2 linked regions of the Homo sapiens genome follow. The protein of the gene in region 1 interacts with the protein of each later gene in a biochemical or structural test. Each region holds a gene or a part of one and is shown in the gene's direction. Other genes may lie near its edges.

The links.
Region 2: the proteins of DAZAP1 (region 1) and DAZL form a complex in vitro, tested with the Homo sapiens proteins (one study listed by BioGRID).

What each region holds. Positions count from the first base shown.
Region 1 is NC_000019.10:1,424,573-1,431,592, forward strand, and holds part of DAZAP1 (DAZ-associated protein 1), read left to right. Parts: intron 1-1,305; coding exon 1,306-1,388; coding exon of another isoform or gene 1,389-1,389; intron 1,390-4,269; coding exon 4,270-4,423; intron 4,424-5,394; coding exon 5,395-5,424; intron 5,425-5,649; coding exon 5,650-5,790; intron 5,791-7,020. UniProt on the Homo sapiens protein: RNA-binding protein, which may be required during spermatogenesis.
Region 2 is NC_000003.12:16,602,424-16,610,376, reverse strand, and holds the start of DAZL (deleted in azoospermia-like), read left to right. Parts: upstream 1-4,953; 5' UTR 4,954-5,171; coding exon 5,172-5,174; intron 5,175-5,586; exon of another isoform or gene 5,587-5,874; coding exon of another isoform or gene 5,875-5,937; intron 5,938-7,953. UniProt on the Homo sapiens protein: RNA-binding protein, which is essential for gametogenesis in both males and females. Plays a central role during spermatogenesis.

The sequences.
Region 1 (7,020 bases):
GTCTCTTCAGCTTGAGAGGCCCCACAGTAGGCTGCTCCTTCCGGGGGCCGTTGCCTGTTCCCACCCCCCACGGCCCTTCTCTGCCGCGCTCGTTCACGCCTCACGCCCGTGCTGCGCTGTCCCCTGCTGTGTGGTGCCTTGTCACGCACCCTGTGCCTCTGGCGCGGGCAGCCCATCTTCAGCCCGGTCTCAGCTCTTCCCATGTCCATCTTTGTTCTGTGAGGTCTTGGGCAGCTGTCTGCCGGGCACTTCCATCTGGGGAGGGGCTGGTGCCGCCTGGGCCCCGCCTCGGGAGGACGGTGTGCTTTGCGGTGTCACGCTCCACCTAGCCGGGGAGGCCTGGAGAGCCCGGCGCACTCCTGCGCCTAGAGGAGGAGACCCGCCCCGTTAGCCGGGGGCCGCGCCCACCCCAGACCCACTAAACTTCGTTTATACTGCCACTCTTGTGTTTGGGAAATGCTAAATTTTTTTTGCCTTTAAAATTTTCTGTTTTGATCCCATGGTGCATCTCGCTCTTGCTGCTGGCAGCAGAGTCTGACCTGCTGGAACCCGTTGTGGCCTGTATCTTTGTGCATTGTTTCTCTACCTGTATAGAACATGCATAGATGTCTACGATATGACCTCTTCTAGGACTCCTTGGGCTTACCCAACGGTGTTGCGTAAGCCTAGCGAGGCACCAGCTATGATAGATACTGTATCTGTTAACGCTTTAGAACGATATATGGCTGCTGTCAGCACTAGCTGCAAAGCAAATTGCAAGCCAAGGGGGAGAATCCTGGGTTTCAGAGAAGCATACACACATCCACGGTGCACACCCCTGACTAAGATGGCGCATTCCACGCGGGCCCCCGGCCTGCAGGGTTCACTGGCAATCTCCCCACAGGCGAGAGCCAGAATATTCAAGCACGGGCCTCTGACCCTCCCCTGGGGGGCGCTTTGTCTGCCAGTAGCGATGGAGGCCCTCACCGTTCCCCTGTCTCCGCTGCTGTTTTATAAGATGTGCTCCTTGTTCCAAATCTTTGTGACACGGAGCCCCAGCCCGGGGTGTCTGGGGCGGAGGCTTGACTCAGGCCTCAGTCAGCAGAGCCGTCACCGGGAGTGCGGACGTCACCGTCTGTCCACTCCGTGTGCAGTCGAGTGGTGGCTCCTGGGGAGGGAGGCAGCTGCCCCAGGGGCCCGCAGCGCCCCACACACAGCTTAGCTGAAACCCAAGGTCGATCCCTCGGCCCGTCCCTAATACTGTTCATCATCCTGTTTTGTGTCACAACACCCTGCTACCTTGATTCACTCTTCGTCGTTGGCTAGGTTTTGGATTTATTACTTTCGAGGACGAACAATCAGTGGACCAGGCTGTCAACATGCATTTTCACGACATCATGGGCAAAAAAGTGTGTAGTTGTAGTTTTATTTTACCTTAAGACCAAACCAAGTCTTAGGCAACTTAGGGGTTTCACTGGAAAGGAACATTCCTTCACGGAAAGGGTCGGGCGAGTTCGTCCTGTGAACCTTTGCTGCGTGAGGTGGGCCTGGGTCTGTAGACGTGAGGAGGGTCCCATCCTTCCCCAGCACCCTTCCTGCGGGGTGGGGATCTCTCAGCTTTGCTCCTGGAGCCCCTCCCTCTGGGTGACCTGGGACTGGGCGGGTAGGGGGCTGGGGCTGGGAGGCTGTGGCGGTGTTGGGGCTGGCTCCAGTGAAACCGCAGCGTTGCCTCAGGCTTGGTTTCCACGACCACTCCTTCAGATGTCTGCAAATCCCCATTGTCTGACACTGACCTGTAATGTGATCAGCAAGGGACCTTTGAGAGCCGAGGTTCCGCTTAAAATGGAAAGCACAGTGGAAACATCATGAAGGACTGGTTGTTTGAATTGGGTCACTTACTGTGGAACTCCGGCACCAGCCACATGCTCTCGGTAGTACTCAGCCACCATGCAGTCAAGTGACCTCTGGTTGTGTCATCTTCATACTGTGTTACCCCCGGAGGTGAGAGGGACAGGAGGCCACCCCCCCAACCCCCAGGCCAGCCCTTGGAAGGCATGTGTCAGAAAGGGGTCCCTAAATCCTTGTTTTACCTGGACCCTTGGAGGTTCTTGAGAAGTGGACTCTGAAATAAATAACTGGTAGAAATTCTACAGTGTGGAATTTCTTGCAGTTAGCAAAAGCTTAGGGGTCCAGGTTTTTGCAGGATTCCTGTCTTGGTCCTTTCAAACCAAGGAGCTCTGCTGGCTCTGCCAGGCCGCCTCACATGCCCAGTGGGATTCTGACCCGGCCTCCTTGGTGCGGCAGCTTCTCCCGTTAACGGAAGAAGACGCTTAGCCCCTCTGACAGGGCCATGGTTGTTTTTTCAATTAAAATGTCCTGGAGGGAGCATCGTGCTCATTATCTCCTGCCCCTGCCCTCTACCCCAGCCAGAGGTCTTGATAGCAGAACTTTTTTAAAAACAGTAGCATGTGTAGTTATTTTTGTATACACGTGGCTTAGATTGGGTTGCAGACTTCATTAATTCCATTTGAACCCAACTAAAACAGGAGACACAATCCTTGTTCTGACATCGAGTGCAGCTTGTGGTTTAAAATGAGCCTGCCGGCTGCATGGGTGCGCGACAGTACAAGCAGGGCTTCAAGGAGTCTGCGCCCAGTGTTTTAAGGGACTACGACACTGACAATTTGGGGAAAGCGTGGTCTTGATATACGGGGCAGAAAGAGCTCTGTACAGTGCACACACCTGCTGCCGTCCCTGGGCAGCCCCTGGGTCCCCCCAGCCATGACTGTTCTGCGCGAGCTCCTGAGCTGGGCGACCTCAGTGTGGGTCTCGCCTTCCAAGCCAGACAGTCGTTGGAGTCCAGCTTGCCCGGCGCCGGCCTTCACTGGTTGGCTGGAGCGGCACTTGGCGTCGCCGCCGGCCCCTCATGGGGGTTTTCCGTTTGTGGAGTGTTTGGTACCGCGTGGTAGTTAACCCTCCATGCCAGGCGACTGCATTGCTGCATTCAGGTAGGAAAGGGTGAAAGAATTTTTTTTTGTTTTTGTTTTTTTAAAGTACAAGGACCGCTCTGCTTTGTAAGCAGGAACCGCAGTCCCCTGAGGAGGGTGTGTGAAGACTCGCTCATTTGAGTTCTTTGAAATGGGTCCCTTGGTCCTGCTGTCACATTGCCTTGAGCTAACGGATCCTGTTCCCATCATAGGCCGGTCCTTGGGGCATTGGGCAGGTGGGGGCTTTGTGCCTCTGTGGCTGCTGCTGTCTGTTCTCTAACAGGCAGAACTGAGGGATTCTGAACTCAGGATGTGCAGCTCTCCAGACTGAGACCCCAAGGCTGACTCCAGGTGGATCCATTGTCTCTTTATTCTCATTACGATTTATCAGAAAAGTGAGACAAATTCAGGATTCTCAAATGCTGAGGCAGCCCCGGAATTGGGGGGATCTTTCTGTTGTTAGTCCACCCATATTTTCAAGCAGGCATTAAAGGAAGGTCAGCCACTGCGCCTAGAATAAGTAGGTCAGGCCTGCTCCATCCATTGTCCCCGGCCCCGCACCCTCCTCCTGAGAAGACTGTGGCTCCTGACACGTCTAGAGAGGAAGGGCCCCGGGCTGCTGAGCGAACACAGTATGAAGATTGCTTACTGATCCAAATGTCCATTTTATTGCATGTTTGTTACTTTTTTTGTTAGATGTAATGTAAGATTCTCTTATCACATCCATTCCCTCTGACATTAGTTTTGAGTTAATTGAGATTCTTTAAGCGTTAGCCTGGGGAAGGTAAGTCTTTATCTTCCATTAGACATTTTAAATTTAAAAATCTAAGTAAAACACCAGCCGTGTTTCTCAGGTATGAGTTAAAAGCACAGGTGGGCGGGCTCCAAGCAGTCCAGAGGGCGATGAGGATGCCGATTGCTGGGAAGATCCTGGTCCCTTTTTGTCCCCATGTTTTCAAGAGGAAGGAGGACGCTGCCATTTTACTTGAGTGAAAGACCCTTCGTCACGCACGAAACCCCCGAGGGCTCTGGGCTCGGTCCTGCTGCCCCGCAGTGGGCGGGCTCTGTGTGTCTTACGGTTGCATCTGTTGTACCTGAGAAACATTTTTTAAACAAAAAAATTCAACACAAAAGAATTTTTTAAGAAAAAAATGCTACTGGCCTAAATAAGGTTTATAGTTAAGTATTTAGTCTTAAGTTGTAAGATGCTAAGTGTAGTCATAAGTTACCCGAGGGTGTGTCTAAAGGGAAGGGGGTGCTGGGACCCGCAGCCTCGCCCTAAACCAGAGCTCGGTTTGTTTAGGTGGAAGTTAAACGAGCTGAGCCTCGGGACAGCAAGAGCCAAGCGCCGGGACAGCCAGGTGCCAGCCAGTGGGGGAGCCGGGTTGTGCCCAACGCTGCCAATGGCTGGGCAGGCCAGCCCCCGCCCACGTGGCAGCAAGGATATGGCCCGCAAGGTAAGGCTGATGCAGAGGTGCCCACGGGAATGTCCCCCTTCTCGGACTTGGCCCGCGCGCCCTGGGCTGTGCCGTCGCTGCGGCCTCCCCACCTCTGCTGTGCATGCACAGAGCCGCGGTTCACAGTGTCCTTGAGCCCCCGCGAGGTGCCGGCTGACAGCCAGCTCCCGGGCAGCACCCGCAGCCTCCTCAGTAGCGGGGTGGCCACGGCTTAGGTGCCCGTCCGGGGCCTGGGACTCATTGTCACCGGGAAGAGCTGCAGTGAGCGTCTGCACCTCGCGACCGTGTGCCACGGCAGGTCTGAGCACGAAACCCTGAGAGGGCTGGCATTGCCAAGCTGAGCTCAGAATCGGGGTGCTGCCCCTGGGGGGCTTGAGGAGCCGGCAGGCTTTGGATCCTTGCCACCTGCCGTTCCCTCTGCAGTGCCGTGGGCCCTCTGTAGTTAGGCCCACGTTGTGGGCCGTCCTTGGAGCTTCCAGCAGCCACGGAACCCCTGGGCTTGGCTGCAGCCCGACCCGAGTTGTGGGTCAGGGTTCCAGATGTACGTCGTCCGGGTCCCGAGACTGTGGCTTCCCTGCACCTCGTCTAAAACCTTTTTCTCTGGAGCCTCCCTTGTTGGAAACTCGGAGGTGCTGTGGGGACTGTCCCTGCCCTCTCGAGGCTTAGAAGTCTCAGGTTTCTCTGGGGTCCTCAGGTGGAGCCGGGAGGTCACCCGTGCCCCAGTCAGCAGACACAGTGCCCGCCACCTGGCAGGGCACAGAGGAGAGTGGCTTTAAGGCCTGTTCTACAAGGGGTGGGGAGTGCTTCTCTGCTCAGGGTTCAGAGGGCTCTGCCCTCAGGACGAACAGGCTCTAAGCACAGGAGGCTCCGGGGTTGGTCCCAGCCCTTGACGTCCATGCTCTGCGGCTCCTTCTCTGCGTCGGACAGCTGGTGGACACGGCGCCAACCTCCTCTTCTGTTCTCTTATCTAGGAATGTGGGTGCCGGCAGGACAGGCGATTGGTAAGTCCTTGTTTATAGAGCAAAGGCGGGGACAGAAGCCACATGGCAGGCTGACTCGCCAGGTGTCCTGGGGCAGCCGGCAAAGCCTGGTTCCCGTGTCCTGAGTGCTGGAGAGGAAGAGAGGGTGAGGGGCCTGCTAGGGCCCCTGGCAGGCCTGGGTCTAACTGTGGCCAGTCTGTGTTGTCCAGCGCTCTCTGTCCATCACCCCCGTACTGTGTGTTTCAGGTGGCTATGGACCGCCCCCTGCAGGAAGAGGAGCCCCCCCGCCACCCCCACCGTTCACCTCCTACATCGTGTCCACCCCTCCTGGAGGCTTTCCCCCTCCCCAGGGCTTCCCTCAGGGCTACGGTGCCCCGCCACAGTTCAGTAAGTCTAGGGGGCCTTGTGGGAGGGCCTCCCGCCTGCTCCGGAGATGCCAGGTGGTGGGCGGGGTGATGGGGAGTCTTGTGTTACACGTCTGGCCTCAGCCACAGGTGGGGTGCCGGCTGGTCAGCAGGTCACCTGCCACCAGGCCCTTCACCTGCAGATGGGCTCCATCGCCTGTGGCCTCGCTGGTTAGGCTAAAGGGCAGCCCGGGCTCCTGCGGGTTGGAGAGCTCATAGCAGGAATGTCTGGGCCCAACCAGTTCTCACAGGCTCCTCAGGAGACAGAGCCTGGACTTCGTGTCTTAGCCTCATACTTCAGGATTAGGGGGGCATTTGTTTAAGGGTGTACAAGCTCTAATTGTTTTTTTTTTTTTTTTGAGATGGAGTTTCACTCTGTAGCCCAGGCTGGAGTGCAGTGGCGCAATCGCGGCTCACTGCAAGCTCCGCCTCCTGGGTTCACACCATTCTCCTGCCTCAGTCTCCCGAGTAGCTGGGACTACAGGCGCTCGCCACCACGCCCGGCTAATTTTTTTGTATTTTTAGTAGAGACGGGGTTTCACCATGTTAGCCAGGGTGGTCTCGATCTCCTGACCTTGTGATCCGCCTGCCTCGGCCTCCCAAAGTGCTGGGATTACAGGCGTGAGTGACTGCGCCCAGCCTCACAGGCTCTAATTCTTGACTAATTTTCCTGTACACGTCACTTGTAATTGAAAAGCTGAGTGTAAGATCAGCCGACACACCCAGAGTTTTATTTTATTTTATTTATTTATTTATGGTTTTTTTTTGAGATGGAGTCTCACTCTGTCGCCCAGGCTAGAGTGCAGTGGCGCCATCTCGGCTTACTGCAAGCTCCACCTCCTGGGTTCACGCCATTCTCCTACCTCAGTCTCCTGAGTAGCTGGGACTACAGGCGCCCACCACCACGCCTGGCTAATTTTTTTGTATTTTTAGTAGAGACAGGGTTTCACCGTGTTAGGCAGGATGGTCTCGATCTCCTGACCTCGTGATTCGCCCGCCTCGGCCTCCCAAAGCGCTGGGATTAGAAGCGTGAGCCACCGCGCCCGGACTATTTTATTTATTTTTTTGAGATGGAGTTTCACTTTTGTTGCCCAGGATTGAGTGCAGTGCCCCGATCTTGGCTCACTACAACCTCTGCCTCCTGGGTTCAAGCGACTCTCCTGCCTCAGTGTCCTGAGTAGCTGGGATTACAGGCGTCTGCCACCACGCCCGG
Region 2 (7,953 bases), on another chromosome or scaffold:
TGTTAACCTTCTTTTTAAAAGCAGTTTGGCTGACCTCACTCATCACCTAATGTAGTCCAGAAGCTTTGTTGTAAGCAATAGTCACAGAAGTTTTGGCTGGTTTAAGCAGGAAAAGAACTTATTAAAATTTATTGGGTAACTAGCTCACAGAATCTCAAAATGAACCAAAGGGTCAGGTTGTCTCCAGGAATGACACACGAAATCATGCTGCAGAACTTGTCCAGTGAAGAAACCTCAGCTGGCACTGAGTACACCATGGTTTGCACAACTGACAGTAGCAGTCATTGCAGCTCTAACCTATACCATGGCTGCTGCTGCTGTTGATACTCTTCTCCAGAAAGTATTCTCTGCAGTCCCTTCATTATGGCATCATTAGTCCCCTATTCAAAATTTAGGATGGCTGCATCTCATTGATGTTGTGTAGGTCACCTGCCCAAGCTGTTAGCTGCAAGAAAGGCTGAGAAAGTAGACTCTTAATTTGTAAGGTGAAGGATTCTCAAATCCAGGGAGGTAAGTTGTTTATGACAAGTGCTCTCTATGGCAATGTTTCTTCACCTTCAGTGTGCACATGAGCCATTTGGAGATCTTGTTAAAATGCAGATTCTGATTCAGTAGGTTTAGGGTGGGGCCTGAGATTCTACAGCACTCACGTGATGTGAAGCTGCTGATCTGAGGATCACACTTTGAGTAGCAAGGCTCTATAGCACCGATTTTCAAATATGGCTGCATACTGGAGTAACTAGAGAAACATTTATATATATATATATATATATATATATACACACACACACACACACACACTGACTTATGAGCCTTGCCCTCAGCTGATTTAATTGGTTTGGGGCGAGGCATGGGCATATAAATTTTTTAAAGTTCCCCACATGATTCTAATGTACTCAGATACCTTTCACTGCAGGCTCCAACTTTTTGTCACTTTGCAAGGTTATTTTTTATTTTTTTGAGACAGAGTCTCACTGTGTCACCCAGGCTGGAATGCAGTGGGGTGATCTTGGCTCACTACAACCTCCACCTCCCACGCTCAAATGATCCTCCCACCTCAGCCTCCTGAGAAGCAGGGACCACAGGTGCACACTGCCACACCCAGCTAATTTTTTGTATTTTTGGTAGAGACGGGGTTTCACCACATTGCCCAGACTGGTCTCAAACTCCTGAACTCAAGTGATCCATCGGCCTCAGCCTCCCAAAGTGTGGGGATTACAAGCATGAGCTAACATGCTGACCTGCAAGGTTACTTCTTTTCTCCAGCTTCTAGGACCTCCAATTTCCCTGTCTTGCTTGGTTTCTCCCCTTGTAATATGATTACTCTCATTTATTAGGCAGAACAATTTGAAACTCTACTCTTTAGTCCCTTGGGCCTAAGTTTGCATATCTAAAGCTCTATAGAGTTCTGCTAATCCAGTGTTTCCCAAAACTATGTTACTCGCTGCCCTGGGAGTATGTGGTATGAAGTGATGCATAAACAAACATTGTTTTAAATTCTAATCATTCTGTATTTATTTTAATGTCATTGTTAAAAAAATGTAGCTAAAACAGTAAGTCTGATCTTGCAAATATTGTTGTTTAGGACAAGAAGTTAATTTTTAAAACAGGTAAATAATAATAGAGACTCAGGACAGATATAACAAAAATCTTGAAAATGATTTGCAGAAGTGAAGTTCAAGTGCCTATACAAACATAGCCTTCTTTCCAAAGCCGTAGGCTTTAGGAGCACAGAAGAACTGGCAGAGGTGTTCAAAGACACCAGCGTTTTTTTCTTCTCCCCCCATATAGGAAGCAATATAGAGATTTATTTCTGAACTGATACGAATTATGCCACTAATCTTAACACATTGAAATGGATACAGTCAGTTTTGATCTTAGATAAAATTCTTTCTATTAAGCGATTTCAAGAAAACAGCACCAACCTTTGAAAAATTCATGATCTAAAGAAAAGTAAATTATAAGAATAACTTATGAAATATAAAATACAAATAATGTTTAATCCCTTAACCAGCTAATCTTTAACAAGAAAACGGGTGAAACTGTTCAGAATTATTAAGAGCTAATACACAAATCCAGAAAGTCTTAAAACTCCTAAGCAGGAGAAATTTTTTAAAACTCCACATCTACTTACATCATTGTGAAAATTCAGAACACCAAAGAAAAATTGGTCTTAAACATCAAAAAGACTGACAGCAGATTTCTCAGTAGCAATAGAAAATAGAAGATAACAGAGTAATATGCTCAATATTCTGAGGGGGGAAAAAATACTTGTAAACCTAAAATTATATATTCAGTAGAATTATCATGAAACAGCAGGGAAAAATCAAAATATTTCAGGTGGAAAAAAACGCAAGGGTTTACCACATCACACTCTCATTCAAGGAAATTCTAAAGAATTTGCTACAGGCACAAGGAAAATGATTCAGAAGGAAGATCTGAGATATGCAAAGAAATGGTAAGCAAAATGTTGTTACATATGTGGGTGTGTCTAAAAAACGACGTCTAATTTATATGATGAAACCAGGATAGAACTAAAATAGTGAATAACTTATAAACTGAGAGAGGGGAGGGTGTGTAGAGCTAAGACATCCTAAAGGCCTTTGCATTATTCAAGAAGAAAGTAAAGCTATTTATTAGCTTTATATTTTAAGTTTACATTTTAAAATAGTAATACAAATCACTTAAAAATACGGAGTGCATTGGCTCACGCCTGTAATCCCGGCACTTTGGGTGGCTGAGGCGGGCGGATCACGAGGTCAGGAGATTGAGACCATCCTAGCTAACACGGTGAAACCCCATCTCTACTAAAAATACAAAAACAAAATTAGCCGGGCTTGGTGGCAGGCGCCTATAGTCCCAGCTACTCGGGAGACTGAGGCAGGAGAATGGCATGAACCCAGGAGGCGGGGCTTGCAGTGAGCCGAGATTGCGCCACTGCACTCCAGCCTGGGCAACAGAGCGAGACTCTGTCTCAAAATATATATATATATATAATTAATATAATATAATTAATATAATATAATTAATAATTAATATAATATAATTAATAATTAATAATTAATATAATACATATACACACACATAGAGAGAGAGAGAGAGAGAGCCAGAGCGTGAGCATTACTCCAAATAAGTTGAGGAAAAAAACTGAGAAAAAGAAAAAAAAACCACGTATACACAATGCAAAAGAAGCTGCTTCTGTTAGTTTTTGACATTTTAACTTTCTTTTTCGTATGCCATTCTTATTCAAGGTAAGTAGTATTGTATAATTTTTTATTGTGAGCTTTTCATTAAAGGGTCATTTTCTTATGAGAATCACTTTCAGCCTAGGTTGCAGAAGCATTCATTCAAGTCGGTTTTATGTTTGCTTCTGCCAGGCATTCTAGATGCCCCATGTCTAGGATCTCTTAAGGCAGGAGAGAGGGTGATGGTGTAGGAGGATCCATTTCTTGGCTTGGGGATTCCAATAATATATTATAGATTTAAACTCCAAACGTTGATGAAATGCAGGTCTAGGGTTTTGAAATTTAATCAGAGTTAAATACATATTTTCTTCATCCAGAGATGGGACAAGCCTCCTCATCTGCTCGCCATGGGTGTTTCACATTTTCCCTACTCCATCCTTTTCCTAAGGATTTTAGGGACAATGGCGTTTTGCAGAGTACTCAGTTCCAGCTCCCACCCTGAGCCCTTACCTCCTACCACTAAACATCCAGATCTCAAGTTACAGAGAGTAACAACACTTTGCCCACACCTAGGATGACCAATCCTTCTGGTTTCCTTAGGGACGTAGGAATTTCTCAGTGCTAAAATCATGTAAGTCCTGGGCAAACTAGTATGACTGGCTGCCCTACAGCCCAGCCCCCATATCCCGGGCAGGAGAAGAATCAGTTGAATAAGTCATTGCTCTGGTTTTCAGTTTATTTTTGGTACTTGGAATTTCCCTTCTTTTCTTATGGGTTTAGCTGCATATTGAAAATAAAACGTTTTATTTTAATCCCGCATTACTAGGTGTTAGTAATGAGATACTGCTCACGTTATAGAAGTCCACCGTTTTGCCAGCTCAAAAAGTAACATTTTAATGCTTTCCGTCAGTACAGAAGTGAAGTTTGTGGATAAAGGTCATAGCTACTTAGCCCTGTGTGTATAGCTAAGGTGCTGCAGTGGTTCCCGAAGTTACGTGATGGGCTCCACCAACTGGCCCACAGCTTGCTCCTGCTCTACGCCCGTATTCTGACCTTAAGAATGTTCTAGAATTCTCTAGGCAGGCCTAGCGCCTTCCTGTAAGGCCTGGAAGGTGAATTCTCCCATTAAAATGTAAGATCCCTGAGCAAACACATGTTCTGTTATTCTGTTCACTCCTGCATCTGCTGTACCTGGTAATCACAGGCACTCAGTAACTATTTCTTGAAAGAACAAACATCCTGAATGTCAAACTGGCATTTCCTCCCATCCAACCCCTTCTATCTCAAACTTGACAGAAAGGAGTGCAAGTTTCTGGCCTGTTGATGTCTCCTTCTGTTTTCCACAGACTTGCTTCGATTTATTTCTGTAGGCATTTAAAAAAGATTTTGGGGTGAGTGTGAAGCTAAAAGTGATGGCGCTAACCCTGTGCCTTAGAGAAGCCATTTGGAAACTGCAGCCTAGACACATTAGATTATCATTTTTGTAAACTATACCATACATTTCAGTATGCATACTTATTTTAGGGGTGTTTTGGGGGTGATGTGTGTGTCTGTGGGTCTATGTGAGCGCGGCGCCTTCCTGGGACTGAGGCACCGGACCTGCGCACACGCGCTGCGTACCCTACGCCCCCGCCGCGTGGGCGCCGTCGTCCCCCGCAGCCCCCCCACGCAGGGGGCGGGGCGCTGCCACCCATTGGCTGAGGCCGATACCACGCGCCCCGATACCCGGCGCAGGAGCCACCTCCCTGAGCCCCGCGGACCACGCCTCAGTCCGCCTGCGCTCCTCAGCCTGACGGTCCGCCTTTCGGGGCTCCTCAGCCTTGTCACCCGCTCTTGGTTTTCCTTTTCTCTTCATCTTTGGCTCCTTTGACCACTCGAAGCCGCGCAGCGGGTTCCAGCGGACCTCACAGCAGCCCCAGAAGTGGTGCGCCAAGCACAGCCTCTGCTCCTCCTGGAGCCGGTCGGGAACTGCTGCCTGCCGCCATCATGGTGAGTTGAGGGAGAGGCCCGAGGGGCAAGGCTGGCGGAGTCTTCACTCGTGGGTGAAACTCGGCTCTGCAGGGTCGGAAAGTGAAGTCATCCTCGGCTTTCCTGTTTGGGGGGCACCTGCCTGGACGCACCACAGCCATGGCCCACAGAGTTGGGAGAGGCGGCCTGGCAGTGGCGCGGCCTACACAGAGAGGCAGGCGCGGGACGCCAAGGGCGGCAAGGTGGGGGTGGGCCCCGAGGACGCGCTGCCTCGCCGGCCACGTGCAAGGGCCACGGCCTTCTTGAGGCACCCATTTCCCGGTTCGGGTTCTCTACTGGCAGAGGTTTGGGGTGCGGGTTCCCCACCCCCGACTGCCCCACCCCGCCCCCACTCCCACGCGCTCCCCCACTCACGCGCCTCCGCCCCTCCCCCACTCCCACGCGCCTCCGCCCCGCCAGCCTCATTTCTGGCGCGCTCTCCCCGTGGCTCCGCAAGATGGCGGCGGGCCTGCTGAGGGACTTGCCTTCTTAAACTTCGAGGGCCGGAGCTTCCTTAGGAAGTGGTTCCCTCCTGGTCCCTGTACTTGGTGGGGTGGGCGGGGTTCGTGGGGGCCTCAGCGTGGGGTGTGGGGCGTCCTGAAGGCATGGCCCTGTAGCTGAGGGGGCTGGGCCGGAAGTGCCTCTGGTCCCCTCGCGCCTGTCAGCTGCGGGGGACTTGCTGATGGCGGCTCCCTCGTGTGGCGGCGACAGAAAAGCTCGCCTGACGCCATCTTTGCCGCACGAGGTTGGTTTCAGCAGTTACCATTAAGAATTTTAGAATTTTTAAATTCTGGGTACGGTTTTTTCCCTCTCGATAAACCAGGATCCTTTGACAAAATGTCCATTTGGTAGATAGCGTTGGGTGTGCGTTTTTGTGAGTTTGGTAAATGCCTAGCGTTGCTTCAGCGCCACCACAAGATGCAGCTCTGAACACGCAGACCAACCACTGAGTCACGAACGCGCGTATTACATGCTGTGTGTGTGTCTGCATTGATAATTCTCAGTCTCTTCAGGGAGGAAATTTATACACAGTTTATATTACCATGTATAAACATTAAAATAAAAATAAACACCTATTATGTGTAATTGTGCAACATATAGTTATCCATGCTAATAAAAAGTAATCACCTTGAGTTGTAAGTAATTATTTATTATAACACTTTTCATTTTTAGAGTTAAATCCGAATTGTTTCATTGGATTATTTTTCTGATTATAAAAGTATCATATTTACTCATTTGAAAACAATCGCTGTAAGAAAATAGCAATCCATCTTAATCCCAACACTTATAACCGTTAAATTTTGGTACATGTATGACCTTCTAGATTATTTTTATGCATGTATTGCATATAGATGGGCCAACTTTTACAAGAGTTACACCGTGCTGCATAATACTATTTTACAACTTGCATCTTTCAATTGATGTGGGCATTGTTCTGAAGATAATTTTAATTTTCAGTATATGTTAAAAATTATACCATTATTTTACCGAATTCGCTTATGATGAATACTTTTTCAATATTAAAACAATACTATCATGGGCTGGGCGCGGTGGCTCACGCCTGTAATCAATCTCTTTAGGAGGCTGAGGCGGGTGGATCACTTGAGGTCAGGAGTTCGAGACCAGCCTGGCTAATACGGCGAAACCCCATCGCTACTAAAAACAGAAAAATTTGCCAGGCGTGGTGGTGCGCACTTGTAATCCCAGCTACTCGGGAGGCTGAGGCAGGAGAATCACTTGAACCTGTGAGGCAGGTTGCAGTGAGCTGAGATCATGCCACTGCACTCCAGCCTAGGCAACAAAGAGGGGAGGCTCAGTCTCAAAAAAAAAAAAATGCTATGAATATCCTTGTGTAAATATCTTGGCATGCTTGTATTATTAATTCCTTGAGATGAATTGCTGTAAGTGGAATTGCTGGGTGAAAGCGCTTTACCCCTTTGGTAACAATTTTAAGTTACACCCCTCATTAGTATAGTGATGAGTATCCTCGCCTATCAAATTATGATACATCTTTTCCAAGCTACTCTTGGTGTAAAGAATGTATCAGTATTTTCCCACTGATGGTGTGTAGAGTGATCTCTTTTCCACACCCTTTCCAATGAAAGGTATTAGGATTTTTTGAATTGTCAACCTAATAGCTGGAAAATATTTTACTATGTTGATGTGCACTTTTAAAAATCATCAATGAAGTTGATCGATCATTAGCTTTTTAAACTTCCTTTTTATTTTTATTTGTATTGATTCATAAAGACTGTATTAATGTTCACCTTTGTCATACATAGTGGAAAAAAATACATAGTAGTAATAAGGAGGTGCCCTTACCTTATTCCTAATTTCAATGGAGATGACTCTAGTATTTCACTTTAAGCTTAATGATAGGGTAGAATTAGATTGATAGAAAATAAGATGTCTCTATTTCTGTTTTACTTGGATATTTAGATAATTTAAAAATGAATGCTGTATTTTGTCAAATGCTTTTTCAGTGGTGAGTTAAAGTAACAATATCCTGTGAAGTATTCTTGCATTTCCAATATAAACTATATTCTTTATATACTGCTGGAATTTTGCATTTGTGTTGAGGGCAGGGATGGCTCATCTTGATGAGGCTTTGTTACTTATATGCTGTTAGCTTTGTAAAATGCGTTGAGAAATACTTTTTTCCTCTTTGAAAATTGAAGAAAAGTGTTTGAATTTTTTAATCTCCTCTTCTGTGTTTTCTGTCTTTATTTCTGGTGTCTGATGTGTATGTGCACCTCTCTCT